Homo sapiens: one gene and its partners. The protein of the gene in region 3 purifies or fractionates together with the protein of the main gene of each other region. This does not show direct contact. Each region holds a gene or a part of one and is shown on either strand. Other genes may lie near its edges.

The links.
Region 1: the proteins of SLC6A5 (region 3) and FTSJ1 purify together in Homo sapiens (affinity purification with mass spectrometry; one large-scale study listed by BioGRID and IntAct). This does not show direct contact.
Region 2: the proteins of SLC6A5 (region 3) and GPR89A purify together in Homo sapiens (affinity purification with mass spectrometry, with the first as the bait; 2 studies listed by BioGRID). This does not show direct contact.
Region 4: the proteins of SLC6A5 (region 3) and UFD1 purify together in Homo sapiens (affinity purification with mass spectrometry; one large-scale study listed by BioGRID and IntAct). This does not show direct contact.
Region 5: the proteins of SLC6A5 (region 3) and TMEM126A purify together in Homo sapiens (affinity purification with mass spectrometry; one large-scale study listed by BioGRID and IntAct). This does not show direct contact.
Region 6: the proteins of SLC6A5 (region 3) and SNX19 purify together in Homo sapiens (affinity purification with mass spectrometry; 2 studies listed by BioGRID and IntAct, with this or other methods). This does not show direct contact.
Region 7: the proteins of SLC6A5 (region 3) and OXA1L purify together in Homo sapiens (affinity purification with mass spectrometry; one large-scale study listed by BioGRID and IntAct). This does not show direct contact.

The regions. Positions count from the first base shown.
Region 1 is NC_000023.11:48,474,435-48,478,998, reverse strand, and holds the start of FTSJ1 (tRNA (cytidine(32)/guanosine(34)-2'-O)-methyltransferase), read right to left. Parts: upstream 2,801-4,564; 5' UTR 2,603-2,800; intron 2,437-2,602; exon of another isoform or gene 2,331-2,436; intron 1,039-2,330; 5' UTR 952-1,038; coding exon 831-951; intron 551-830; coding exon 481-550; intron 383-480; coding exon 292-382; intron 1-291. UniProt on the Homo sapiens protein: Methylates the 2'-O-ribose of nucleotides at positions 32 and 34 of the tRNA anticodon loop of substrate tRNAs. Requisite for faithful cytoplasmic translation.
Region 2 is NC_000001.11:145,617,887-145,621,664, forward strand, and holds part of GPR89A (Golgi pH regulator A), read left to right. Parts: intron 1-433; coding exon 434-537; intron 538-3,778. UniProt on the Homo sapiens protein: Voltage-gated channel that enables the transfer of anions such as iodide, chloride, bromide and fluoride which may function in counter-ion conductance and participates in Golgi acidification.
Region 3 is NC_000011.10:20,630,595-20,634,372, reverse strand, and holds part of SLC6A5 (sodium- and chloride-dependent glycine transporter 2), read right to left. Parts: intron 3,683-3,778; coding exon 3,558-3,682; intron 1-3,557.
Region 4 is NC_000022.11:19,461,945-19,465,722, forward strand, and holds part of UFD1 (ubiquitin recognition factor in ER-associated degradation protein 1), read right to left. Parts: intron 3,331-3,778; coding exon 3,258-3,330; intron 1-3,257. UniProt on the Homo sapiens protein: Essential component of the ubiquitin-dependent proteolytic pathway which degrades ubiquitin fusion proteins.
Region 5 is NC_000011.10:85,646,607-85,650,997, forward strand, and holds the start of TMEM126A (transmembrane protein 126A), read left to right. Parts: upstream 1-1,360; 5' UTR 1,361-1,483; intron 1,484-3,642; 5' UTR 3,643-3,649; coding exon 3,650-3,735; intron 3,736-4,391. UniProt on the Homo sapiens protein: Protein required for the cotranslational protein quality control in the inner membrane of the mitochondria.
Region 6 is NC_000011.10:130,906,202-130,909,979, forward strand, and holds part of SNX19 (sorting nexin-19), read right to left. Parts: intron 2,245-3,778; exon of another isoform or gene 2,160-2,244; intron 1,883-2,159; coding exon 1,752-1,882; intron 521-1,751; coding exon 424-520; intron 1-423. UniProt on the Homo sapiens protein: Plays a role in intracellular vesicle trafficking and exocytosis. May play a role in maintaining insulin-containing dense core vesicles in pancreatic beta-cells and in preventing their degradation. May play a role in insulin secretion.
Region 7 is NC_000014.9:22,769,656-22,773,788, reverse strand, and holds the end of OXA1L (mitochondrial inner membrane protein OXA1L), read right to left. Parts: intron 3,999-4,133; coding exon 3,855-3,998; intron 3,597-3,854; coding exon 3,511-3,596; intron 3,329-3,510; coding exon 3,164-3,328; intron 2,985-3,163; coding exon 2,880-2,984; intron 2,772-2,879; coding exon 2,609-2,771; intron 2,522-2,608; coding exon 2,441-2,521; intron 2,356-2,440; coding exon 2,231-2,355; 3' UTR 747-2,230; downstream 1-746. Other genes in the region: SLC7A7 (Y+L amino acid transporter 1), read left to right, coding at 73-179.

The DNA of each region.
Region 1 (4,564 bases), on a different chromosome or scaffold from region 3:
ACTGCTGCCCTCAGATCCCGCCTGCCCATGGTCCTGGCCCACAGCCCCTGGGTCAGCCAAATTCCCAGGCTTTGCCTCTCTAAGACTGGGCTCCACCTCTGGGGACCCAGCATCATCATTTTCTGCTGTGTCTGTGCAATGATGACCTGCTGACTGTTTCTCCATGGTTACTCTCTCACTCTCTTTCTCTCTCTGTTTCTATCACCTCTCTGTTTCTCTTCCACTCTGCATAGACCCCAGGTAAGGGCCTTCACCCAGGATATACCCCAACACCCTCAGCCATGCTCTTACCTGGGTGATGTCCCCCTGGATCTGTACCACACCTGGTAGTGGAGCCATAGCCTGCAGGTCCACAGCCACCACGTGGCCGGACCCTTGGCCCCTGTGGACAACATGGCCCACATCAGCCTAGTTTCGCTCCCGGGCCCCTCCCACCCAGCCGGCCCTCCTGGGTCTCCCATCTGGGACCCCCACACTTACCCGATCTTCTGGCTCAGCACCTGGCTCCAGCTGCCTGGGGCTGCACACAGGTCAACTGCCCGTGTCACGCCTGGGCATACATAGTGAAAGCATCCTGATCAGCTGCACCCACTTCTCCAACCTGGAGACCCTTGCAAAATTCACCCCTCTCCCCTGGGGAGCACCCACATATCTCCATTGCCCAGGTGCCCAACTCCTCTCCGGTATTCTGCCTATCTTCCTGCCTGTCTCCCTGCCCCAGAGACCCTCTGAGTCAGCCCACCTACCACAGGGAGCTCTGCAGACCCAGCCTACTTGTTTACCTCCTGTGCCCACCTCACCGCCCAGTGACCTGCCCACCAGTCAGGGACCTTGGAAGAGTTGGAATTCCTTATCCAGTTGTAGCAGTTTGAAGGCGCTGCGAGCACGCCAGCCATTCTCCTTGGCCAGGCGGTAGTAGACATCCCGCTTGTCCTTTGACGTCCGTCCCATTTCACACACCAGTTGCTCAAGGACCTGCCGACAGTCCACTGATGCCGGCCAGTATCAGTAACCAGATGAATGGGCTACCACCTACCTCTGTAGGGCGGAGAGAACCACACAAACTAAACTGGGCTCATCTGACCCACATGACAGCTCACACAGAAGATGGGCTGACTGAAGCCCTGGCACTGACCCCACTGACCTTATAGGGCCTGAAGGACCCAATCACTGAACTCTCAGGCTCCACTGCTTATCACACAGACCCTCCTCGCCCCCATCACTTACCCCACAGTTCCCACAAAAGACCCCATAAACCCAACATTCATCCCATAGATGGCCCACTTGTGAACCTGTCCACCTCCCATCACTGTCACCCACACTCCACACATTAAACCCTGCAACTGCCACTATCAACCCTTCTCTGCTCATGTCATGCCCATTAAAATCTCACTGACTGTATCCCCAGTTGTCCCCATTGCCCCTAGATTCATATAGTCCTATTAGCCCCCATTAATCCCTTGTTTTCCACCTTTATCCTAATACTACTTCATTGTACCTCCCACTCCCTATATCTCTCTCGTTTCACCCCATTCGCCATTAATCCCTTAGATGATTAGGCCCCTTTATTACTACATCCTTATGAACCTCTAACAATGCCTGGAGAATCATGGTCTATTAGCTCCCCATTAAGCATTCAATTACTGATTTATCAGCCCCCATTAACTCAGTTTTCTCCAATAGACCCTTCATAGATCACAGCACTAGCCTCCTGCCCTGTAACTCTTTCATTAACAAACACGTTAACTGATCACACATCAGTTCCCCATTCTCCCCTCACTGTCCACCCTGCTCTCCATGGATCCATCACTGGATGATCACACTCCAACAGTTTACTATTCACCTACTATGTATCAACAGAAGTTAACCCCCCCAACCCTAGTTTACTATTGCCCTCTCTTTACTCACTCTGTCCCCTAATTCCTCGACGGTCATGCCACCATAGCCCAACTACTGACTCTGACTACAACACCATCAGCCTCTCATTATCTTTTCTTTCACCAAGGCCCCTTGATCATGACCTCCATCCATCTATTATTCCCCCCACAACCTCACCATCATCCTTGCCATTACGATGCCCCATCACTTTCCATTAACCCGTTGAATATCATACCTCCATCAATACCTGGGGGATCATTTTCCCATCCATCACTCGTTATATTCTAGTTGCTTACTCTGCCATCCCCTCATTAATCAATCAATGAACAACAGTTCGACTAAAATATTCTTATTAGCCCCCATTGATTCCCCAGTAACACCCCACCCTCACGCTCCACCCAACCTCCCAAAACAGCCTTCTGACCACACTCCCCGTCCCTCCTCATCAATACCTCAAAGATGATAGCTCCATCGGGACCACCGGGTACCCCTCCAGGCGGCTCCGACCGCTGCGTCCCATGTCCCCACCTCGAATCCACCCCGTCTACTGGTCCCCTTCTGCAGACAAACCTTGGGTCTAGAACCCACCCGGTGCCAGCCGCCCGAACCATACACAGCTACGGCGCCCAGGGCGGACCTCCCTCCTTTCCCCGCAGGCGGGACAGTGCAGGCGTGCCTCAATAGCCTCCGCCCGCATTCCTGTCCTCCGCGCCCCAGGGCCCACCTTAGTTTTCGGAGCAGGGTGGTCCGCGAGCAGCCTGTGCCTCGGCGAGAGCGCAAACGGGCGACAAGTCCTAGGGCTTCAGTTTGTGTTCGTAGTCCACCCGAATGCCCGGGGGGGCAAGCCTATGGGCTGTCGCAGCGTGGCAAACTCGGCATCGTGGATCGCCCAGGTTCCGGCGGGCCGGGACCTGATGTGAACGTACAACGTGAGCCCCGTCATCTATTGTCGACGTATCCGGGGCTCGCGAACTGCGTTTCCCGGCATGCAACGGGCACGGCCAAAGCGGCTGAATCCACGCACTGCGTGGCTGCAGCGACGCGACGCGCAAGTTGCCAGCGATTCTTTGTTCTTTTTCTTCCGAGGCCAAGATCGATTTGCTCCCCCGCCCCTCCCTTCTTGGACCGTGCTTGTTATTGAGCCTGTAAACTACATTTCCCAAGATGCCACGCGCAAGATGGCGCCCATTCATTTTTCGCGTGCCGGGAAGCGAAATTACCACTCGGGGCATAAACGTGACAGTAAGGAAAATGCGTTCTTGAAGTGCGCGAGCGCGCGGAGGCTGCTCGGCTGCAATTTCAGATCGCACTACAGCTAATGCATGGCGCTGCCTGAGTTTTACTGCCTCAGAACTTCAGTTTCCCTGTCTGGAAAGTGGGGATAATCAATAGTATAGACTTAACAGCATTATTGGGAGGGTTAAATAGGTGTAGCTTAGCCACTCTCTGGGCTTTTGTAATTCTGTGATCTTCAAATATTTTAAATTCCATCCCAGACACAAAAAAAGACTATACATCCTGACCCAGTGGACAAACGGAAAAATAATGAAAACGTTTATCATAGTGTTTACCATGTGCTAGGCTCTAAATGCCCTCAGTGGTGTGCTGGTAAATGGTTAACCACTGGCTGGGGCGGGGGTGGTGGCGGGGAGGGGTGGGGGGAAGGGAGGCTGGTTTCTAGCATTTACCAATTTCCATGGCTTAGGTACAATCTTCTTGTTAGATTTCAAGGTACCGACCTGTGGTCACTGAACAGGGAGTTTAAAAGAGATGCAGTAGTGCACTATCATGTATTATTTTTACCATACAGATAAAATGGGGGTAAATGACCTCAAGAGCATAGAGAATAGTGGAATGTGGTAAAATTAGGAAGTTACCAGTTTTGAGTAAGTTTATATCATTTCATTTTTAACCATAGCTGTTTAACTTTAGGGGGCTGAGGTGGAAGGATCGCTTGAGTCCAGGACTTCAAGACCAGCCTGGGCAATATGGTGAGATCCCCGTCTCTACAAATAATAAAAATAGCCGGGCGTGGTGGTGTGTGCGAGTAGTTCCAGCTACTTGGGAGGCTGAGGTGGGAGGATTGCATGAGCCTGGGAGGTCAAGGCTGCAGTGAGCCTTGATCTTGCCACTGCACTCCACTGTGGGTGACAGAGTGAGACCCTGTCTCAACAAACAAACAAAACCAGTTGTTAAACCAGCTGTTTAACAACCAGTTTGCAAAATTTCTGAAAATTGAACAGCTCCTCCCAACCTGTATAAGTTGGCTCCAGCATGTCCTTCCCTTTGTTCATTCATTTTAATCCTGGCAACATGCATATGAGTATTAGCCAGGGGCGGCGGCATGTGCCTTTAGTCCCAGCTACTCCAGAGGCTGAGGTGGGAGGATCCCTGGAGCCCAGGGGTTTGAATCTAGTCTGGGCAACATAGCGAGAACCCATGTCTCTTTAAAAAATAAAAGGGCTGGATGCAGTGGCTCACGCCTATAATCCCAGAACTTTGGGAGGGCGAGGCGGGGGGATCACTTGAGGTCAGGAGTTGGAGACCAGCCTGGCCAACATAGTGCAACCCCGTCTCTACTAAAAATACAAAAATTAGCTGGGCGTGGTGATGCGCACCTCTAGTCCCAGCTACTCAGGAGGCCAAGGTGGGAGGATCACTTGAACCTGGGAGGTGGAGGTTGCAG
Region 2 (3,778 bases), on a different chromosome or scaffold from region 3:
AAAGAGCCTGGGATTCTGGAGATTTTCTTCTGCCCAATACTTTAAGACCTCCCGAGGAAGGTTCCAGAACTGATCCAGGATCTGCAGAGTGTTGAAGAACCCCTTTAAACATTAACCATTATGTACGAATCTGTCAGTTTTTTGTCAGTATGCATCAGGAATTCTAAGTGCTACCTATGACCCTGTCACTTCATCTTCTTGTCCTCAAAATTCTTCATCCACAGGAGGATGCTGGTAATAGTGACTCAAGATTCAGAAGTGCCACCTATATTGATCTTTTTCTTTAGCTCCAGGCAAGTTGCTGTTGTGGCCCTACTTCCAATGACTTGAGAATTTCCTCAAAATAAGTTTTCTGACTTGTAACCAGAAGGAGGTTATCAGTTCAGTTTTTAAACAAGGAAATAACTTCTAGTCTCTGTTTGGCTTTTAACAGATACGTCAGTATGTTGTACAGGTGATCTTCTCCGTGACGTTTGCATTTTCTTGCACCATGTTTGAGCTCATCATCTTTGAAATCTTAGGAGTATTGAATAGCAGGTGAGTAAGAGTACTGAAAACTCCTCTTGAAGAGTTCTGTGCTACATTCTTTACAGTGGAAAAGCTATTGGATCTCATAACTGAAAAAAAAAACACTGTGTTAATAGTTCAGTTTCAGTAACTGCAATGATCACAACAGATATGGGTCACAGCCACCTAATAGCTGGTTTGATAAAGATTATGAGATACCAGGAAACAAAAGATCTGACCGTTAACTCTGAAGAACTCATTGGAGTGAGGCTGTGAAGCTGCAGTCTAGGCTTCACTCCTAGAAGCTTTATTTTTCCAGGACTGCTCGCTGACTGAATCCCAGTAACAGCCCTTCACATTGTTCTGCTGATTGAAAATCTCTACCTGAAAAGATTAGAATTCCTCAGAGCTACTTTAATGATCTCTCTGAAGACTGAAACTCCAGTTCTTACTTAACTTAGTTATTTTTATTGATTTTACAGTCATGGTCAAGTTTGGTTGAATTTAAAGTGTTTCTTAAAACACTTTTTAAAAATAACTCTTTACTCCCCTCCAAATAATAGACTTGTTAGTTTATTAGACAGTCTATTCAAAATATTTCTTGCTTGTTAATCTGCAAGCTTGAGTATGTTTTTAGGCCAGCATTTATATGTAGGGTTCATCAACTATGCTATGCAGACTTTGTTGTGCTTTTTTATCACCACCTGGAAAAACCTTTTAGGAGTAAAGCAGTCTTTCACTCTAAAGTTAGGATTCAGTGCCAAGGTAAGTTCATTATAGACCCCTGGCACTTGAGACTTGTAGAGAGACTATACTCTCAAATCCTTTGATAATCAGAGTTGAAAACGAAATTTAAATTAAAAAGAAAAACTTACTATACAGATGGTTAATCACAAAACATTGAAAGGTTAAAAAAAAAAAAAGAAGAGAGAGGGGCCAGACATAGTGGCTCACGCCTATAATCCTAGCACTTTGGGAGGCTGAGGCAGGAGGATCACTTAAGTGCAGGGGTTCAAGACGAGCCTGGGCAACAAAGTGAGACCCTGTCTCTACAAAAAAATAAAAAAAATTAGCAGAGTGTGGTAGTACACGTCTGTAGTGCCAGCTACCCTGGAGGCTGAAGCAGGAGGATCCCTTGAGCCCAGGAGTTTGAGGATATGCAGTGAGCTGTGATCACTGGACAAGACAATGAGACCCCATCTCTTAAAAAAAAGAGTGAGAGAGAGAGAATCAGAGTTGATAATAATGGTCTCTTGATAGAACAATGAATAACATGTATTATGGTAAAATAGAAGTGTTTTCTGATTCTCCTGCTTTTAAACTTTAATAATCCAAACCTTGGCCGGGCACGGTGGCTCACGCCTGTAATCCCAGCACTTTGGGAGGCCAAGGCAGGCGGATCACGAGGTCAGGAGATCAAGACCATCCTGGCTAACATGGTGAAACCCCGTCTCTACTAAAAATACAAAAAATTAGCTGGGCGTGGTGGTGGGCGCCTGTAGTCCCAGCTACTTGGGGGGCTGAGGCAGGAGAATGGCCTGAACCCAGGAGGCAGAGCTTGCAGTGAGCCGAGATTGTGCCACTGCACTCCAGCCTGGGCGACAGAGCAAGACTCCATCTCAAAAAAATAAATAAATAAAAAATAATCCAAACCTTTTCTTGGATGAGCTAGATATAGATCCTGTGACTATAGAGAATAGACAGGTATTATTTTACATAATGGTTATTAAATTTTATTATCACAACCTGCATCTTTCACTGCTATTTAAGCAGGGGTTGGCAGGCTTTCTTCTGTAAAGGGCCAGATAATAAATATTTTAGGTTTCTGTGGACCAGAAGGTTTCTATCACAAGTACTCAGCTCTGCTGTTGTAGAGAGAAAACAGTCATAGGCAATATATAAACAAACGAGCATGGCCATGCTCCAATAAACTTAATTTGTAAAAGCAGGTGGCTGTGAGGCCATAGTTTGCCAGCTACTCATCTAAATATTGATACAGAGGATTCAGATATTCTAAAGCTATATTTACTGTTTTTGGTAGATGATGTCCCCCAACTTTTAACTTATAGTTAATAACCCGTATAGTAAGAAACATCTGTCATACTATGGTGTATGTTTCCTAAATTTCTTAATTAGTTAAAGAGGATAAGAAGTAGCATTGCTAAAATCTGGTTTTTCTTTGTGTGCTATATAGAGGATTGGGTCTGAGACATATCTTCAGTTATACCTGTTTTTTCATGCTAATGTTTCACCCAATTATGGAACACAAATATGAACCTTGATGATGTATAACTGTCCATTGACTGGACTCAGAATCGTTTTGAAAAGAGAATCTTGGCCAGAATATTCCTTTGACTCACCTTTGAGCAGAGATCATATGACTTCCTATTCAAATATGTAATCTTGTTGGGATGCTTAGTTTTTTCAAGAGAATATCACTTTACTCTCAGCTCAAAAGACTAGTTAAAACATGTGGTTCACTTTTAATAGGCAGTCCATACTGCCAATTAAAGTTGCACTTGTTATTTCAAACCCACTGCTTCCCAAAATCTTTCAGAAGCTTAGCTGAAATACTATGTAGTATTGCCTGGAGGATGTCCAGCTTGTTTCTTTCTCTAAATGTTCTAAAGTAGTTGTTAACCTAGAGGAGCAAAAAGCTGTCAATGTATCTAGTCTAAATGGTATTCACTCCCTGTAGGGTAGCTTTTACTGAATGGCTCTTTGTTTCGTGATGCCTGCCATCTGTACTAAGGAAGGAACAATAAGAAACAGCCCTCTGAAACATATTTCTCTTGAAAGGATGTTGTTGATGACACTGTTAATTGCCTTTGCATTTTCTTTATGAAATCTTTGAAGAAATTTCATTGTAATCTTGTTAATAATTCAGTAACAATAAATGATAATTATGCTTCCTTTGAGGAATTAATTTTTATTTTCTTACAGACATGATGATTTTATCTAACTGATCAAATTTTTTATTTCACATTGACCATTAGAAAACTTAAAGCTAAATTTATGACCTACCCATAGCAACTTTCTAGAATTCTGTTTTATAATAGCCATCAGGCTTGGCCCAATATTTTACCTGTTACCATTGTTGTTCATATTTCCTTATAGTTCATTTCATCATCCTGTATTTTATTTATCTTTGTAAGCCATTTAACCACTTAGGCCTTTTTTGAAACAAGGCTTAAGTAAGTTTAAAATCAGTAAATACAAAGGACACCATCAAGAAAGTGAACCAACATTCCAAAAACAAGAGAAAATTTTT
Region 3 (3,778 bases):
TGCAAGCTAAATTACAGCAGACTCCACTTACCCAAGGCAGATGGGGAGCGGAGTCATCTAGAGAATAACATCGTTAGATGTTTAAAAGAGTATATGGCCAGTCTGATGAAGGCCAAGTTCTGCCTCTCTCCTCTCCCACTGGGAGGCAGTAGAGCCCAGTGGCTGGAGTACAGGCTCTCTTCCTCATGGATTAAAAAACTGGCAGCCAGGTGCGGTGGCTCACGCCTGTAATCCCCACACTTTGGGAGGCCAAGGTGGGCAGATCACAAGGTGAGGAGTTCAAGACCAGCCTGGCCAATATGGTGAAACCCCGTCTCTACTAAAAATACAAAAATTAGCCGGGCGTAGTGGGGGGCGCCTGTAGTCCCAGCTACTCAGGAGGCTGAGGCAGGAGAATGGTGTGAACCCGGGAGGCAGAAGTTGCAGTGAGCCAAGATGGCACCACTGCACTCCAGCCTGGGTGACAGAGCAAGACTCCATCTCAAAAAGAAACAAAAAACAAACTGGCTGTACCTCTTGCTAGCCGAGGACTTAGGGGGTCACTTGTTCTCTCTAGACAAACTTTAGTTTCTTTATCCACACAATGGAAATAGTAATAGTACCTACCTTTATAGAGCTTCCGTGAGAATTAAATGCATCAACACAAGTAAAAGGCTTAGAACAATGCCTGGACATACTATGAACTCAGAAAACATAGACCATTATTAGTCTTCTTATGAGAAGGGATCAAAGGGGCTCTTCATTTCAGTAACTTGAGCAGAGTCCCCAGAGATCCTACCATGAGAGCCTCCTTTATCCTAGAGTGCCACTAAAGACACAGCAAGGGGCTCTGGTCAGTGCAATGCATCAAGGCCCATGGCACAGCTTGGGTAGCCACTCTGCTGTGATAACTATTACAAATTGAATGAGCTCTCTGAGGATATGCCACCTGGACCTCTGTGCCTTTGGGCAGAAGGATTGGGATACAGGTGACAGACAGATGGCTGCATGGAAGTGGGACATCAGTGCTGTTTGAGAATGCTTATTTTGATTAGTAAGGTATCTGAACTATTAAGGGGCAAGGGAACCAAAGTAGTATTTCTAGTGCTCCGGTTAGCTGAGAGTTACCTACACCTGGGAATGCTAAATAAATATGCAAATTTCTGCTTATCTACTCTGGTATAACTCAGTGTTTCTGCTATTGGATAAGCATCTTTGTTTGGCTTCAGGATAGATTCTGAACATGAGTCACCGCTCCATAGGTGGTAATGCATATGGTGGCGAGATGGCTCTGAAGGGCTAACTTTCCTGGAAGCTGCTTTTCTAGAGTAGTTCCCCGAGAACATGCCCCCTTCCCTATGCCTATCATAAAAGCAAAACACAGCTTGGTCTCTTCACCAATCCCATCCTCAGCCCCTCAAAATTTTGATAAGACCAAGATTTAAGATGATCATTTTGGTAGAAATGCCTCTTTTAGAAGGGAGTGGTAAACTAAATCGCATAGTGTTAGGTCATTAAAGAGAACCTCTATTTGACTAAAGATCAAAACTTAGTTACCAAAGTTGGGTCAGCAAAAATGTCCTGAATGTCTATATGCCAGTGTTGCCCAGCAAGGAGGAAGTGGGGCTCAGGTTGAATGCAGGCCTGACCCCAAATCTCTGTCCTGTATTCTGCAGAGCCTCCATTATATCAAGGCAAGTAAGACAAGCCTGTAAAGCACATATAAAAATACATCCAGGTTCAGATGAGCAGGAAAGCTTCCCCAGTGGGTCTGGGAGAAGATCTCATGGGCCTTCTCCTGTGAGAGATGAGGCCCACCCGTCCCTGTGCCAGAGACAAGAATTAACACAACAGGTTAGAACCTGTTAGAAGTGCCCCTACCCTTGTTCAAATCAAAGGAAGTGAAAAAACATTGGAAAGGAGAAATTTCAGAGGAAAACATGGGCAATTTGTTGGCAATTTTACACACCAGATAAACAACATTCTGTTTGAGTTTTTGCAATATCTCCCCAGAAATCCGTTTCCTGGAGCAGAAAAGAGTTCAGAATCATTTACTAACCTGGCCCACATCTCAGGATTCACAGTCTCTAGCAGGTTGGCCACTGGTTCCAAAAGAACTCAGTAATGTCACAAAAAGCAAAATGCCTAAGATCTTCTAGAAAATGGGACAGAACCTATCTGCTCCAACCACTCTGCTAGGAGGAAATGAGGTTACAGGACAGCTGGAAGTGACTCCAGTACCTCTAAGGACAAAACCCGTTTACCCTCTCACTTTCCCTCCCTGCCTCCCAGGGTATCTGAGAATTCTCAACCAGGGAGAGCCATTGCTTATCTCCTGGGGCCCCTCTAATTTAGTGCATTGCTGCGGAACCAAACACCCCTCAGGGTTTTACACTCTCTCCAGGGAGAGATAATTGCACCCCTGGAAAGTGCTGGCTCTTTAACTCTTTGAGGCCCCTGGTGCACCATCAGCATGAATTGGCGCAGTAATGAATTATCCTTGGGGAGCCAGAAGAAATCTTAGTATCCAAGAAGGTGACATTTCCAGGGCTTAGTTCTCTCACCACATCTGAGCCATTATCTGAGAATTGCAGTCAGCTCCTTGAAGGAAGATAACTGCCCAGACAAGCCTCTCACAGGTACGCCCCTTGGTTGTCCAGGGCCACAGTCATGCCCCACAGCATGAGGCACATGACCAACACACTACGCATCCCATAAATGTCTGAATTGAGAATGAGATCATAATGGTAAACAACAGACACAATGAAATCCCTTGATCACTGAAACCTACTAAATATACAAATCCTTTGTGGAACCAGGCTGGGTGAAAATGAAGAGTTAAACTAAAATCTTGAATGCTTTCTCTGCAAAATGCTGTCCTAGTAATATGGATTAAGTGAAATAAAAATGAAAGCTCTTTGTCAACTTGAAAGCACCATACAAATGTTAGCCATTAATAAAAAGATCATTTGGGTAGAGAGTAAACATTTATTCCACATGCCTCTCCACCCACCCAGCACGATCCAACATTTCTACCCACTGGGGAAAAAAACTGCAGGTCTGCATTGCTAACTAAGCAGAAGGCCCTGAAAGCACATTTGACCTAACAATCAGAAAAGTGCTTTGTAAGGAAAATGCTCCTCTGAAGTCAGTTCTCTCACTAAGCCTTGGTTTCGACAGGGCCTTCTGCAATGAATGTCATCCTACAGCAGCCTGTGCCCACATCAGCTCCTGAGGCAATGGTTTGCCTAATAAATTCTCTACTCATACCTAACAGGTATAACCCTTATTTCTATAGACTGGAGCTAAATTAAGAGGGGCAAGGTAAGAGGAAGGAGAGGCAAGGAGAAGGAAAGAGGGCTTTTAAAGCAATCCCTCCAGTTAGAGACCAGCCAGTTCTGACTCTGCAGTGAGCTTCCTACTTGAGCCTGCCTTGGTCCCTCTGTAAAGAAGGACCTGGGCTCCTCCACCCTCTATCCTGTTCCAGAAGGCCAGCTTCCCAGCATAGTCTAAATTAGGAGCTTGTGACATGAGCCTGGGACCTGCCCTGCAACAGCAGGGTAACAACTGTCCTGTACCTTGGTCTGCCACATTCTCAATGTTGACTTTGCGTTCATTGGCCATGAAGCCGATAACGGAGAAGATGACGAAGCCGGCAAAGATGCTTGTGGCACTGTTGGTGCAGGTGACAATTAGAGTGTCCCTGGAAGGAAGAGACCAGAGTTTTCCATTAGGTGTGCTTGGTGAGTGGAAAGGGACAAGGGGAAGGACACACAAATGTGTGCCCACATGTTTGTCT
Region 4 (3,778 bases), on a different chromosome or scaffold from region 3:
TCTAATTCATTTTATTTGTTTTTAAACATTCAATATGCATGTAGACTTTTCAGGGTTTGCTTTTTTTTTGTTTGAGGCAAGGTCTTGCTTTATCACCTAGGCTAGAGTGCAGTGGCACGGTCACTGTTCACTGCAACTTCTGCCTCCCGGACTCAAGTGATCCTCCCACTTCAGCCTCCCAGGTAGCTGGGACTACAGGTGCATGCCACCATGCCCAGCTAATTTTTGTATTTTTTGTCGAGATGGGGTTTTGCCATGTTGCCCAGTCTGGTCTCAAACTCCTGGACTTAAGTGATCCACCCACCTCAGCCTCCCAAATTGCTGGGATTACAGGTGTGAGCTACCACACCCAGCTTCAGCTATCTTTTTTATTAACTTTATTGAATTGTAAACAGAGAACACTTTAATTCTAAACAACTCTCTCAAGAGAGTAAGTCTAGGCCAGGCGCGGTGGCTCACATCTATAATCCCAGCACTTTGGGAGGCTGAGGCTGATGGCTCACCTGAGGTCAGGAGTTCGAGACCAGCCTGGCCAACATGGTGAAACCTCGTCTCTACTAAAAATACAAAAGTAGCCGCAAGTGGTGGCACATGCCTGTAGTCCCAGCTACTCAGGTGGCTGAGATGAGACAGGAGAATTGCTCGAACCCAGGAGGTGGTAGCTGCAGTGAGCCAAGATCGCGCCACTGCACTCCAGCCAGGGTGAGACAAAGAGAGACTCTCTCAAAAAAAAAGAGAGTAAGTCTAAAGACTTACTCTTTTCCAACATTTTAGATGTCATTTTTTAAGCTTCATACATTAAACATTATTACTGCTTTATATGGCAACATTTACCCTGGATTCATATTTGCCAATTTATTTATTCCCTATTCCTTCTTGCTTTCCTTCTAGGATAATGCTTATTCCTAAAGTACATGCTTTTAAAATTCCATTGGTAAATAACCTCTCTCAGATTTGGTTCATCTGAAAATATTTTCACTTTGCCCTTATTCTTTAAGGAAGGTTTTGATGATAGTTACTTGATACTGGCTGTAACTGTTGCTATTCAAAGACCTGCTACTTGCTGTTCTTCTGAAGGTACTGTGTTTTCTCCCTGCTTACCTCTCTGTATTTGGTATTTTCTACCTGTAGCTTATTCTGTTTGTTATACATTATAAATTTCCTGTCATGATGGGCTGACCACCAATTCTAAATCAATTTCAGTTACCATCTCTTCAGATTATTGCAATTCCTCCATTCTTTCCTACTGGGATTGCAATGGGCATGTTTGACTTTCTCAGTGTCTTCAACATCTCAAGCTCTCATATGTTCCATCCCCTTGCTCCTCTGTGTGAAATTCTGTTATTTCTTCAGATTCATCTTTCATTAACTCTTTTATAGCTGTTGTTTAACATTGTTTTTCAAATCTTTCTGGTTATTTTTGATAGCCTTTTGTTGCTCGCTATTATAATTCCATTTTAAAAAATATCTTTGAACATTTTATATCTAATTATTTTACATTTGTATCTAGAAATTCTAATGCTGATTTCCTTAGGGATCTAATTTTTATTGTCTCTGCTTTGGTGTAGTTTAATTATGTGTTCTTTGCTTGTTCAATTGACAGCAATCCCAAAGACGTAACTAAACTGGAGTGCTTTTTCCAGAGAGGATCTGTTTATTTCTCCTGAGACAATGACAACACCCACCTCTGTGTATATTTTACTGCTTTTAAGGGTTCCCGTTCAATCCTGATCTCTGACTCAGATCTCCCACTAGAGCACTGATATGGCCATCTGCCCTCAGGGCAACCCAGCTTAGAGTGTTTAAAATTCTCTATAAGCACAACAGTACATTAATCAGAAGGGCCCATTAGAGGATCTAGTTTTCCCTACTTCTAAAAGTGGAAGTTCAAACCTGTGTTTCAATTTTACATACACTCTTATATAATGTACCCTCCCTTAGAGTGCAAAGTATCAGTACTATCCTTTATCATCAGTTTAGGAGTTATATGTAGTATTACTACCTTAACATTAAAAACAATAACATTAAACTGCCTGTAATTAATTATAAAAGCTTAGAGTATTCAGTTAAGGTAAACGATACCTAAAATGTTCTCCACAAAGCTAAAGGGAACAAGATTATTTCTTAGTTTATTAAAAGGAAAAAAGAAAGTGTGATTCGAAACCCAAGGAACTGAAAAATAAGGTCAGATGCCTCAAATATGAGGAAACTGCCAGAGAATAAGCTGGATCCCTGCACTGACACCAAGGGAGTAACTGGCTAAACCACAGGCAGCTGTGACACAGCTGTGACGGCCCAGTCCCCGAAGGGACCAGAGAGTGCTGTGAAGGAGCTAAGTGCTAGCTTCAGGGAAAGCCCAGCCAAGCCAGGCTGTGGTCACTCCCGAACACTAAGGCTAGCCCTGGCAACAGCTCTGTGGGAGGGTCAATTGTCAACAGTCACAGTGAACAGGGGCACCCATATTACTGTGCTCCATGCCTGTGGTGGGACAGCCTGATGGCAGGATTGCCAACTATTACATCCTCCTGCAGGCATATTCCCATAGGTAATAGGAAAGTGAATGCTTTCTTGAATTTTGGACTAAGTCCTGTCATTTCACTTTACAGTTAAATTGTCTAGATCCAGACACCTAAACAGCATAAAATCAGGGATGAAAACAGAGGCATTCAGACCTGAGAGACTTGTGTCAGAAAGGTCAAGCCTAGAGAAGCTGCTAAGTGAAAACGGAAGCTGAAGAAAACAGGAGGTGGAGGAGGATGTGGGCTCCCAGGAGGAGAGGTGAGCCTAGGAGGTGTTGCCCTAAGGCAGAGCCAGGCTTTGCTTCTCAGATGCCACACAGCACTTGGCCCCACTGAAGGGCCTGTCAGCTTCTGTGGGGCAGGTATCCCAAGGACAAGGACCCAGCAGGGTTGTTATTGTGTCTCCACAGCCCTGCAAAGGGCTTAGCTCAGATTAGAGGTGCAGTGGGGACCTTTCAAACCAAGACAGAACCAGCAGCCTTGCCACCAAGGTACACAGAGGTATGACTAATAAGTCTATCAATGTTCCCCTGTAAATGCAATCTATCCTCAAAACAGAGTTACCAAATGAATTAGGGCTCTAAATATGAACCCGGGAAAACTTAATAACCAAACAGTAGGCAGTAATTAGGTGATAAGATCCAGGCATACGCTGCTTAAAAAGAAGCCCCATTCAAACATTAGAATGGACACTGCAGGTGGCTCTTGTCAGGAATGACCTGCATGAACTGGGCTCACCTTTTCATTATAGTTGATGGCAATCACATCCCCGGTGGTCAGACAGGCAAAGTTCCTAAGTGCGTTTTCTAATCTGCAGACACATTCTGTCAAGGCAACATGGCAAGATGGATACCTTAATCTGAAACAAGTTTCCATGTTAGATGATTACTGGTAGGTAGAGACTGTACCATGATGGTACTTGAAACACGAAGCTTTTAATACAATAAAGTACTACTTGGCAATAAAGAAGGATGGAACTCCTAATATGCAATAATATGGATGAAATGCCAAGCTGGGGTAACAAATGCCAAGCTGGGGGAAGGGGAAATAACCAACCACAAAAGGGCAGTGAGATTCCATCCACATGGAACCCTGAGAAAGACAGATCTATGAGGATGGGAGGTAGCTGAGAGGTTTCTGGGCCAGGGGATCAGGTGGGGACTGACAGGAAAGGACCTTTTGGGGACATGGAAATGTTCTGATTACATGGGTGTATACATTTTCAAACTGGCTGAACTGTGTGCATTTTATTGTATACA
Region 5 (4,391 bases), about 65 Mb from region 3:
CTTGCAGTGAGCCGAAATCACACCACTACACTCCAGCCTGGGTGACAGAACGAGACTCAGTCTCAAAAACAAAAAAAAAAATCAGCTGATCAGCTGGGCGTGGTGGCACACGCCTGTAATCCCAGCTACTCTGGAGGCTGAAGCAGGAGAATCGCTTGAACCTGGAAGGCAGAAGTTGCAATGAGCTGAGATCAGGCCATTGCACTCCAGCCTGGCCGACGAGAGCAAAACTCTGTCTAAAAAATAAAAAATAAAAATAAAAAAAAGACTAGGAATTTTCCTTCTTGTACACCTTCGTGAAAATAAGTCTTTCTATTTGTGCAAGTTTAGAAACTGCAATTACAGACTTCTTGGCACTATGGAGCCTAATGGTCAAGCAACCCTGCAATGGAGAGACAGTATAAAAATTATCTGGACAATGCAACACTTTATCACTTGTTCAGAAATTTGAGAGGATGAGAATAATTAAGATTTCTGATAATGTGTTATGATCATGTATTTATTGCTACAGTTAGTTATATATTTTTTGGCACAATGTTTACCTGCTAATCTTAATGGAGTTAAGATAAAATTCAATTGTAGGCATTTTTCCCTTCTATTGGGTTAATTAGTCCAAGCGAACTGAGCAAAGGTTGCAGGGAGCCCCAGCATGGCTGAGGAAGACCTGGTGAGGCATCCACTGGCTGCTGGGAGGAGAGCATTAGAGGTACCTTCTGAACAGCACTGTCCAATAGAAATATAATGCAAGCCACATATATAATTCTAAATTTTCTAGTATTTATACTTAAAAAGCAAGAAGAAATAAGATGACTTTCACCCAACACTGCTTCCAAATAAGCAGTACTCTGGAGAACACGAGAAATCCTCAGAAAAATAAGCTGCAGCTCTGAGGTGCTGATTATGGTAGGGCAATCAATACAGATCAAAACATGGCACAGGGAGCTTAAGTTCCTAGGGAGAGTAGAAAATCGATAGAGCCAAGAAATAGCTCACCTTTGACTTATTTTTAACCTGAGTAGCTATCATATGCCAAGAGCTGTGCAGTTTTCATTTACCCCATGCCAAGAACGTAAGTAGGCTCTACTGACCAGGAAGTTAAGTAATATGCCCGAGGTACGTTTTCAATGGAAGAGGCTGACTGAGGGTCACCCAACTTATATCTCGAAATTTCACAATTTCTACAAGTTCTGTCCTGGGAGGCAAGAGTAGGTGAAACGAGCACACTCTACGCCAGGCAAACAAACCTCAACGCTTAGCCTCCCGGCACCTCCTAGGGCCGGAAGCTTCTCAGCCCAAAGCCGCTGCTGGCTGCAACCTCCGTCCCGCAGTCCAATTAGCAGCCGCGACCCGGCGCCCGCCCACGCCGCGTCACGAGTCAGCCAAAGATGGCTGCGCCCAGGTAATTTGAGCAAAGGCCACAGTGAACTCCGGCGTGGCTGAGGAAGGAGGAGGCACCCACAGGCTGCTGGGAGGAGAGCATAAGGTACTGGTATTCCGGGGGAGGGGGTGAAGTAAATGTCCCGGTGTCAGGAGAAGCACGACGCGGTGACACGCTAGCTACCAGCAGCGCTGCGCGTAAATGAGAGCAAGTAGAAGTGTAGTTAGCTCTTCCTGCTGTCTTTTCACTTTGCACTCTAGAAGGAAAGACCTTATATTTAAATTAACTCAGTAGAAAGGAGAAATGCCTGAGATTGAATTTAATCCCAGGTTTACTGTCAATTTACAAGGTGACCACGGCCAAATTTGATTTTCAGAGGTCCCACTTTACTTCTCTTTCAGATAGGCCCCACACTGCCTATCTCTCAGAGCTCTTCCAAGAATGACATGAGATAGGTAACACAAAAATCTTTCGAAATATTTGTAGTTTTTACAGGCGGCGTTGTCTTTGATAGATATTTGTTATTAATATCGGAGACAAAATGCCCACAGGGGCTGCCCAGTCAGCACTTATACTGAATTGAGTGACTTAATTGCCCTCAGTACAATATATACATACTAAATTTGATTATATATTTCACCACCCCATACACAAAATCATTCAGAGCTCCTGTACAGCAGAGATTGTGTCTTATCATCTTATCGTAGCCAAGGCCCTCAAAAATTTGACTACCAGAAACCTAGACATAAATTTCTAAGGCTGCTTTGTACTTATTAGGTTAGCTTTAAGTCTAGAGATATGGAATGTCAAGGTAATCAACATTTCCAAATGACCTCTTATCGATATAAAACAGGTAGCAATAAATATTTAAACGAGTGCCTGTAATGTTGTAGGAAATGAGAAAATCTGGTTTCATAAAAGCATGTTTTCCTTTGTTGTTATCCCTGAACTGTTTTTTTTTTTTTTTTTGTAGACCGAGTCTCGCTCTCACCCAGGCTGGAGTGCAGTGGCGAGATCTCGGCACACTGCAACCTCCACCTCCCAGGTTCAAGCGATTCTCCTGCCTCAGCCTCCCGAGTAGCTGGGATTACAGGCAGCTGCCGCCGTGCCTGGCTAATTTTTGTATTTTTAAAAGACAGGGAGTTTCACCATGTTGGCCAGGCTGGTCTCGAACTCCTGACCTCAGGTGATCCGTCTGCCTTGGCCTCCCAAGGTGCTGGGATTACAGGCGTGAGCCACTGCATCCAGCCTTTGTTTTTCTTAACTGTTACCCTGAAACCTGAGCCAAATCTTCATCATTCACCATTCCCTTCACATTTTCACCCTAACTAGTGCAGACATCAACAAACTACTGGCATGTAGGCCATATGCAGCCTATAGCTTGCCTTGGTACAGCCACCCAGCTAAGAATGATTTTTATGTTTTTATAGTTTTTTTAAAAACAAATATTCAACAAAGGCTGTATGTTACCTGCAAAGCCTACCACATTTACATCTGGCCCTTTAAAGTTTGCTGAGCCCTGATCTCAGGTATACCTAGAAATGAAATTGCTAGCTATGTGTGTCTTCTATCTGCTAAATAATACCAAATTCTTTCCCAAAGTGACTGTACAGTTTGGGTAAAGCTACCCCACAGAATGTACACAGAATGTAGTTTTAGCTACCCCGCATTCTTGCCAATAATTGGAATTGTCAGATTTTGATTTTAGCTAACCTATGGGTACCTATTGGTATCTCACTGTGGGTTGTTCCCCCAGTTATAATGAAGGTGAGCATATTTTCATGTTTATTGGCCATTTAACTTTCCTTTTTGTGAAGTGCCTGTTCAAATATTTTGTCAGTTTTTCCGTAGGGCTGCTTACCTTTTTCATGTTGATATGTAGTTCCATGTATGTTCTGGGTACTAACTACTCTTTTGTCAGTTCTATTGCATTTTCTCCCCCACTAGCTTATCTTTATGGTATATGTTGATAACCATAGGTTCTTAACTTCAATACTGTTAGTTTTATAAGTCTTTTATGTTTAGTGCTATTTGTGAATTGTTTAGGAAATACTTTCAAGGATTATGAAGATATTCTGTATTTCCTAAAAGCTTTATGTGTTGCTTTTCATGTTCTGGTTTCTGTTTCACTTAGATTTTTTTTTAATAATATGTATGCAATGATTTTTTTCAGATTAGCTCTACAGTATTATTTTTAGTCTTCAGAAGGTTTTTAAAATTCTTTGTATAAATTCTTGAGAAATGATATCTTCATGTTTTTTAAGGCTCAAAATGGAAAATCATAAATCCAATAATAAGGAAAACATAACAATTGTTGATATATCCAGAAAAATTAACCAGCTTCCAGAAGCAGAAAGGTAAGATCCCTTCTTAATTTAAAAACACCTTTTATCAGGTGGATTTTCACCATTGATTCATTATCTCAAGTTTATCTGGTTTGAGTATAAACAACATGGAATGTGAGAAGGAAATTGCCCTTTTCTTGCCTGGATGAGAGCGTTTAACCATTTTGCTCAACATCACATAGCTAATTGTGGAAGGTGAGGCTGGAACTCATGTCTTTGGACATACCTAATTGTATAATGTTTTGAGTTTTTCCATTAGGCTTGGAGTATAGTAAAATGTAAACATTTACAGACCCATTTAAATAACAAAACTTTAACTTTTAAAATGTCTTTTTTTTCCCAGTTCATTCTGTCAGTATGCTTACCAGTCTAAGAGTACCATAGAACACACATAGCAAGATAGAGAATGTCAGAGAAATAGGATCATGGCTAAAGATCTTTAAGATATTATTAAAGAGGGCCAGGCATGGTGGCTCACGCCAGTAATCCCAGCACTTTGGGAGGCCAGGGTGGGCAGATCACCTGAGGTCAGGAGTTCAGACCAGCCTGGCCAACATGGTGAAACCTCATCTCTACTAAAAGTACAAAAATTAGCTGGGCGTGGTGGCAGGTGCCTGTAATCCCAGCTACTTGGGAGGCTGAGGCAGGAGAATTGCTTGAACCAGGGA
Region 6 (3,778 bases), about 110 Mb from region 3:
GTTTCCCTGCCTCTCCCCTGCATAAGTACCTTGGGTATAAAACCCAACTGATGCTATGACTCCTTTAGGAAAGATTTTATTTTTTACCGAAGTTGCAAGTAAAACAGGCCTGCCCTGGGATTATCATTTCTGCACCCATTTTTGGTCATCCATTTTTTTTTCCAGGAACTAGCTTTCTTTCTTATCTTGTCATCCATTATCCGAAACCCACCATGGTTGAGAAGCCAACCTGCCAACCCAGAACTGGTAGGAATTCCAAACCACTTAGAGAAAATACTTTTAGCATAAAAGCTGGAGATCCAAACGTTGATTAAGTCATTTAGCAGGACATTTCTGACTTCAGAGAATATCTCAACTACCTGTAACTGCAGGACCAACATCTCAGATATTTTTGCCTCACATTCTCTGGGTTTTGGTTCTTACCACATTGCCTTCCTGGAGACAATAAAGAATCTTGTCTTGTGCTTCAGTCACACTTAGTGCTGGAGAAATTTTACTGGATGAGAACCTCAGCCTAGACCTGGTACAGAAACAAAGAGCAGAAACAGGTTGTAATTTATGGCCTTGAGCCTCACACTAAGGGCTGGCAAGTACTGATAATAAAACACAACAAGAATATCCATACTTATTCTGGGGAGCTTACTGTGGTCAGAGCTGCCAGGAAAGACTCGGCCCTGCAATCCCCCAAACAATGTATATTCTGGCAATTCTTGATAGATAATGTTAACGCATACACTAAGCTATGTCTACAGTGCACTTGTGAAATGGTTTCTGCTAAGTAAAACTGGCATCAGTGTGTATTATGGTTATATTCCCACAGGATAGATTAGCTAACACATAATAGGCACTCATTAAAAATTTGCTGAAGATTAAACAGACAGGTGGCATAGAGCAAGTTTTCATTATTGCTATTCATGGTGTATCCTTTTTGGACATCCATTTTTTCCCCTTGTGTTCCAAATAAAACCAGAAAAGGAACTGCAAGTGATAACATCAATGTTTCAAGGGACAGAGACTCATAAGCAGAGGTATCATGGTCATCCCTCAATATATGGGCCCAGTTAAGAAAAGGTTAGGTACTGTGAGTCTGTTATTGCTGGCCCATGAAACATAAGCACAGAGACAGAGACACACACACATACACACATGCTCTCTCTTTTTTCATAAGGACCCAGATATAGATGAAATTTCCAGTAAGGGTACATGTGGTGCCCTTGCTTGCCACATGTTGGCTTTGAATGCTGCCAGGGAACAGCTAGGGCCCTAGTGCAGGAAAGAGTAGCAGTAGTCAACCAGTTACTAAAATAGGCCCTGCAGGTTTCCATTCTAACCCTTTCCTCTTTATTGCTAATATATGCAACTTCTGAGCCAAGATTTCCAGAAATGATGGCAAACAGAGATCAGTTATAAGCCTTAATTCTTAGTAGGAAAGAAACATCTCAATTTTCCAGGAAAAGAGGAAAGAGAATATCCTAGTCAAAAGAGAATATTCTTCCTAGTCAAACATCCCTGGTCAGTTGGGCCCCAGGTTCCCATGGCAAAACCAAACATTCAGCAGTGCTGCCTCTGCAGCACCGCAGGCTCCTCCGGGTGGAAAACTGAGGAGCCTGGGGTCTAGCTTTGCCTAAAAACTGGTATGTCTGACCCACCTCCTTTCCTCTAGGGCTTGAGAATAGGGTGAGTGTTGGCTGAGGATTGGGGATCAATTTGAGAACTGGGGAAAGGTCCCTGGGTAACTGAGGGCTTCTCACTTGCTAGCCTTCTTGCCTTCTGTCTGGGGCTTGCTTTCGGTCTCGGCCTCACTCAGCTCCTCTGTGGGGCTCTGGGGTTCAGAGCGAGGAAACGCTGTCTTCAAGGTGTCCACAATGGCACTCACCACCATCTGCAGGGGTCAGAGGTGCAGGGTCAGTCCATCCACATCCACAGATGGAAACCGCCAAGCAAGCAGTCGCCTCACAGCACTTTATGCAACAGGACAAGGAGAGGGGCCAGGCTATCTAGCAAAGCCTTATCCAGTAGGAAGGTCGAATACCAGCTAATGACTTAGTGCCAACTATCTTTCCTTTTTTCCATGGCCATAAAAATCTTTTTCCTTGAGGAGTAAAACAAACAACGCCATGGGAAAAGAAGCCAAAACCAATAGTGAGAGAAATAAAAACCTGAGTTCTGCGGGCTGGTGATGTATTTTTCAATTTCTTTCTTTTTAAGTAAAAAGGTGATTTCTAGTTTCCAAATCGGTAACACCTTCATCAAGATGTGCATCAGTGGAAGTACATAGGTAGGAGTATAAAGAGAAAGGAAAAGTGAAGAAGATGATCAAAAATAAAAATAACAGTTAAGGGGCATAGTAATATTAACATGCTTAGAGTAACTTACACAGAGCAAACAATCAGTTTTTCTAGTCAATTCAAACAATTTCTCTTCTTTAGGTACAGAAAGAATAACAAAGATCACTCAGGTCAAAACTAAGATATCTGGAGTTGAGTTGTTATAACTTATCTACTCATACAAGACCAAATAAAATAATCCTCACTAAAGATTAACTCCATTTCTTCAGAATGGCAAAATGACATACAGATATTTGCTAAAAAGGACAATGTACAAACAAAACCTTAAACTATCAAAGAAACAGAACGAAACATTTACTCTTCCTCTGGTGCTTCTTGCTAACTAACACTGCTGGCTCAGAGCAGCACCATGCCTTCTTTGACTCATTCTTGTGGTATTCCTCCATAAGGAGTAAGCTAGCATAGCCAAGACAAGGCTGAAGAGAGTGGTCAGCAGACTACAGTAAAGACTGGGGGAGAACAAACCAGGGAAAGAACACTTGAGGATGCATGCATTTAGATAATGCAGCTTAGAAAATACAACTTGTTCTCCAGGATCACAGAACTGTAGTCTGTGAGGGTGGGGAGGTCCTCATCTGTCTCATTCACTGATGTATGAACAGCAGCTGGTAGAGTGTCTGGCTGAAAACAGGCATCCAGTAAGTAGATGTGGAAATAATGGATGAATGATATCTGCATGGAACTCTGGGCATTTACCCAGTTGATCCCTTTTTAGTTTGTAGTTTTTTCCATAGCAGTGGATATCCCCTAACACCTACTACATGAAATTCTATTTTATTTGTTGCTCCAAGCCTAGATGAGAAGAGGGAGGCTACTCTTCCGCCAATGTGTCAGTGTTTCCCAACCCTATAAAACACACATCACTTTTGATAAACATAAGCCTCAGACTTCTGCCCCAGAGATGCTCATATCAGTTGGTAATCACTGCTTACAAGCTCTGACATGTTACACAAATGTCCTTCTTCCACCATCTCCATAGGTGCTGAGATAACCTCTTGAAAAAGATACAATTCTCTCCATACTCTGTTCTCTAGCGGAGAACCATGACACCACTCTAAATCCAGCCTCAGGTCGTCTTAGGCTCTCTTTCCTGGGTGACCCAACACTGGAAATGAACTTTACCCTCTGAAAGACCACCCCTCATGCCAGCTATCTGTGAAGACACAGATCAATCTTCACATGCCTCCAACAGTACAACAATATAATGATACCCCCAGGAGATATGTGTACACTTAAGAGTGTTGGGGTACTGTTTCCCAGCAGCTGTTTCCTGTGATTCAGCAAGCTGATGATTCAACCAATATTTGGCAACAGGTCTTGACAATTTAAGTCCATGTTCTATTGACGGCTCTGTGCTGCCCCTTCCCACACCCTACTGCTCTTATTTTTCAAGGACTGCCTCCATTCTGATGAATCCTCCCCATTTATAG
Region 7 (4,133 bases), on a different chromosome or scaffold from region 3:
GTTCCATTCAGTGACACTTGAACTCAGCCCAGCTGACCTCTTCTCAATTCCAACTCAAAGTTCTCTTTGTAGGGTCTGCCACAAGGTACCTCCAGGTCCTGTGTATGTCAGTTGCTGCAGAAATGGATTTGGAAGATGGAGGAGAGATGCCCAAGCAACGGGATCCCAAATCTAACTAAACACCATCTGGAATCCTGATGTGGAAAGCAGGGGTTTCTGGTCTACTGGCTAGAGCTAAGGAAGTTGAAAAGGAAAGCTCACTTCTTTGGAGGCACCTGTCCAGAAGCCTGGCCTAGGCAGCTTCAACCTTTGAACTTACTTTTTGAAATGAAAAGTAATTTATTTGTTTTGCTACATACTGTTCCAGACTTTTAAAGGGGACAATGAAGGTGACTGTGGGGAGGAGCATGTCAGGTTTGGGCTTGGTTGTTTTAGAAGCACCTGGGTGTGCCTACCTACTCCTCTTTTCTTTTAAAAGGGCCCACAATGCTCCAATTTCCTGTCTCCTTTAGAGAGACATGAAACTATCACAGGTGCTGGATGACAATAAAAGTTTATGTTCCTAAAGTCTGAGTGGCTTCATTTTATATAGTATCTATCTCTAGGACAGCTCCCATTAGCCTAGAAACACAAAGACTAAAATCAATCTTATGCTTGAAAGTATATCCATCTTTTCTCTCTCAAGCTAGCTGCTGAAGGCTGATAAACCAGGCTCTACACAAAGGCAGACAACAGAACACTTAAACTGCTCTAGTCAAATGTTGGATTGTTACATAAAAATGACATGAACTTCCTTTTTGAGACAGGATCTTGCTCTGTAGCCAAGGCTGGAGTATAGCAGCATGATCTTGGATCACTGCAGCCTCAACCTCCTGGGCTTAAGCTATCCTCCCACCTCAGCCTCCCAGGTAGCTGGGACTATGGACAAGCACCACCATGCTCAGCTAACTTTTTAGCAGAGACAAGGTCTCGCCATGTTGCCCAGGCTGGTCTCAAATTCCTGGACTCAAGTGATCTACCCACCTCAGCCTCCCAAAGTGCTGAGATTATAGGTGTGAGCCACTTTGCCCAGCCTGGAACTTTCATTCTTAATTATCACTAAGAATTTGCACACATCTACTTCTTGAAATTTTTAAAGTAATCTTGGGATCAAGAAGTGCGGTTACTATATTTAGATACAATCTCAACATTCAACTTATCAGCCACACCTCTAGACTGCAATCCAAATGTGCATAGAACAACACATGCATGGGTTGGAAGTTTAAACTGTTTTTTTTTTTTTTTTTTTTTTTTTTTTTTTGAGAAGGAGTCTCACTCTCTTGCCCAGGCTGGAGTGCAGTGGCGCAATCTCGGCTCACTGCAAGCTCTGCCTCCTGGGTTCACGCCATTCTCCTGCCTCAGCCTCCCAAGTAGCTGGGAATACAGGCACCCGCCGCCATGCCCGGCTAATTTTTTTTTTTTTTTTTTTAGTAGAGACGGGGTTTCACCATGTTGGCCAGGATGGTCTCGATCTGCTGACTTCGTGATCCGCCCGCCTTGGCCTCCCAAAAGTGCTGGGATTACTGGCGTGAGCCACTGCGCCTGGGTGGAAGTTTAAACCCTTAATGCCAGGTTAAAACATTATATTTTCCAAGGCCATGGGCCAGCAAAAGCAATCATGACTCACTCTATTCTTCAGTTTTCTTTTTTTTTTGAGACAGTCTCCCTCTATTGCCCAGGCTGGAGTGCGGTGGTGCGATCTTGGCTCACTGCAACCTCCGCCTCTCGGATTCAAGCAATTCTCCTGCCTCAGCCTCCCGAGTAGCTGGGACTACAGGTGTGCACCACCACGTGTGGCTATTTTTGTAAAACAGCAGAGATGGCGTTTCCCCATGTTGGCCAGGCTGGTCTCAAACTCCTGATCTCAGGTGATCCACCCACCTCGGCCTCCCAAAATGCTGGGTATTCTTCAGTTTTCTGAAGTGCACACTGATTTCCCTGTTCAATAAGTATCAGGAAGCAGCATGTAGTACAGAGGTTTACTAACTCTGTGAATGGGAAGATCACTTGGCTACCCAGTGCTCTCTTATAAACATAAGTACAAGAGTGTTTCATGAAATCCGTTTTTAAAATGAACATCTCTGTGTGCCACAGTTCCTAGGACTGGGGCAAGGACACAGTGTCAAGTCTTGTTTTGAGGATGAGTCTCTGAAGAGACAGAATTCCTGCCAGAATGCGCACAGAACATAAGTCAGCCAAGTGTGTCGTGCCAGGGATACTTTGACTTTGGTTTGCTGCTGCTGCTAGGGATATTGGGAGGGTTATCCTTTCCAGGTTGTAGGAGAGGGTTGTGGGTAAAGGTCTGTCGTAAAGGACCTGAGGGGAGAAGAGAAAACAAATTTCAACGAAGAACAGAAAGGAAGAAACAAAAGACAGAATTTGGCCTGAAAGGACTATTTACCCCTGGCTGCTAGCTCCAACTGATTCCGCATGCGTTGTTCACGCTCTCGCAGCTGACGCGTCATTTCAGCATTTTTCCAGCCTGTGTAAAGAGAAGCAAGAGAGTCAGTTGCATTCCTATTTTTAGACCCCTTTCCCTAGTCCTTTTTCACAGAGGATGAGCCCTTACCTTTTTTGAAGCTCTCTAGGAAGCCTTCCCGTGGAGGTAATTTGTCCAGGTCATGTACAACACGCTGGGGGATTTTAAGTACAGTGCGTACTGCTGGAATCCGGAGACAGGATACTTGGACCAGGGAAAACAAATTGGAGGAGAGCCAGTACATAAACACTGCCTGGGTGAGAACACAGAGAAGGGACTCAGAAGCTGTATCCCTGGTCAGCTTGCTAGGTGGCTAGGCTAGGCAGAAGGCCTTGGAGCCAGCCCATAAGGCATTACATACCGTGGGGAAATGCATGGTTATGGGCAAGGTTATCAGGGGCATCATTCTGATGACATTTCTCATCCACTGAAGGTCAGAACTTTGCACACCTGTCTCAGCACCTAGCTGCCAAAAGAAGTGGGGTGGAAAAGTCGGGAAAGCTGTCAGTTTCAGTGAATCTGTCTCTAATCTCTTACCCATCAACTCTTTCTCCAGCAAGTGAAGGATGACCATTCTGTACAACTACTTTACCCTCCAACCCCAGTTCACTTTGCAGGCCTGGCACTTGGCCAATCTGGGCTTACCTCAAGAACAGCCCACATTGTAGCAGTGACTGCCAGTGGTAATATGTAGATGGGATCGGATACCGTGAGATCCTGGAACCACCAGAGGCCACCTGTCTGCAGGCTGGGCACAGGAAGGTTGGCCATCTCTCTCAAAGCAATGAAGAAGGAGATGAAGATTGGGGCCTATTACACAAGATAAACAGTGTCAGCATGCTTTACCAGAGAGAACATTTTCATCACCCCACTACTGAAAGCCATGTATAATCCACCACCACCTGTTTTTTGGGGGACCTGGGACACATGAAACACAGAGAGGAAATTTCATGGGTACTGGATGAAATAAGGAAGGAAATGTTTTTGCTCACCTGAGTCACAGGGAGAATGAGAGGTTTATAGAGTTTAATACCATGTTTTTTCTGGTAAAGTGCCATCTCCGAGGAAGCCTTGTAATCTGTGAGGTGAGGGGAAATTAATGGTTGGGGTAACAGTTACATCAGTGGAGGTGAACATCCTCATTATCTACCTGGCCTGTGAAATTTCTAACCAACCCTGGCCACTCCTTGGGAGCATTAGGTCTAAGAAACAGATAAACCTTTAGAACTTTCCCGACTGTGGCAACTTCTGATTTACATTGTTCCTTTCCCCCAGCAGAATGTAAGGAAAAGTGCAAATGTGGACTTCTCCCACGCTCATTCTGCAACTGACTCACACTCAATATGGTCTCCTGCTAACTTGGCCTCTCTGATTCGACTGGAAAACTTCTGGATCTCTGGCAAGTGATTGTGGATCCTGGCTGCCTCTCGCTGGCCCGTCACGATGAGAGGAAAAATCAGGCAGCGGGCAAAGACTGTACCTGGAAAATACAAACTAGGATTGGAGTGAAATTAAAGCAGTTCTGCAGCTAGAAGGTTGAAGGCTTTTAGGTCCTTACTGAAAGGGTCTTATTCTTGCCTTGTCCATTCTATGACTCATGCCTAAGAGGCCCAGA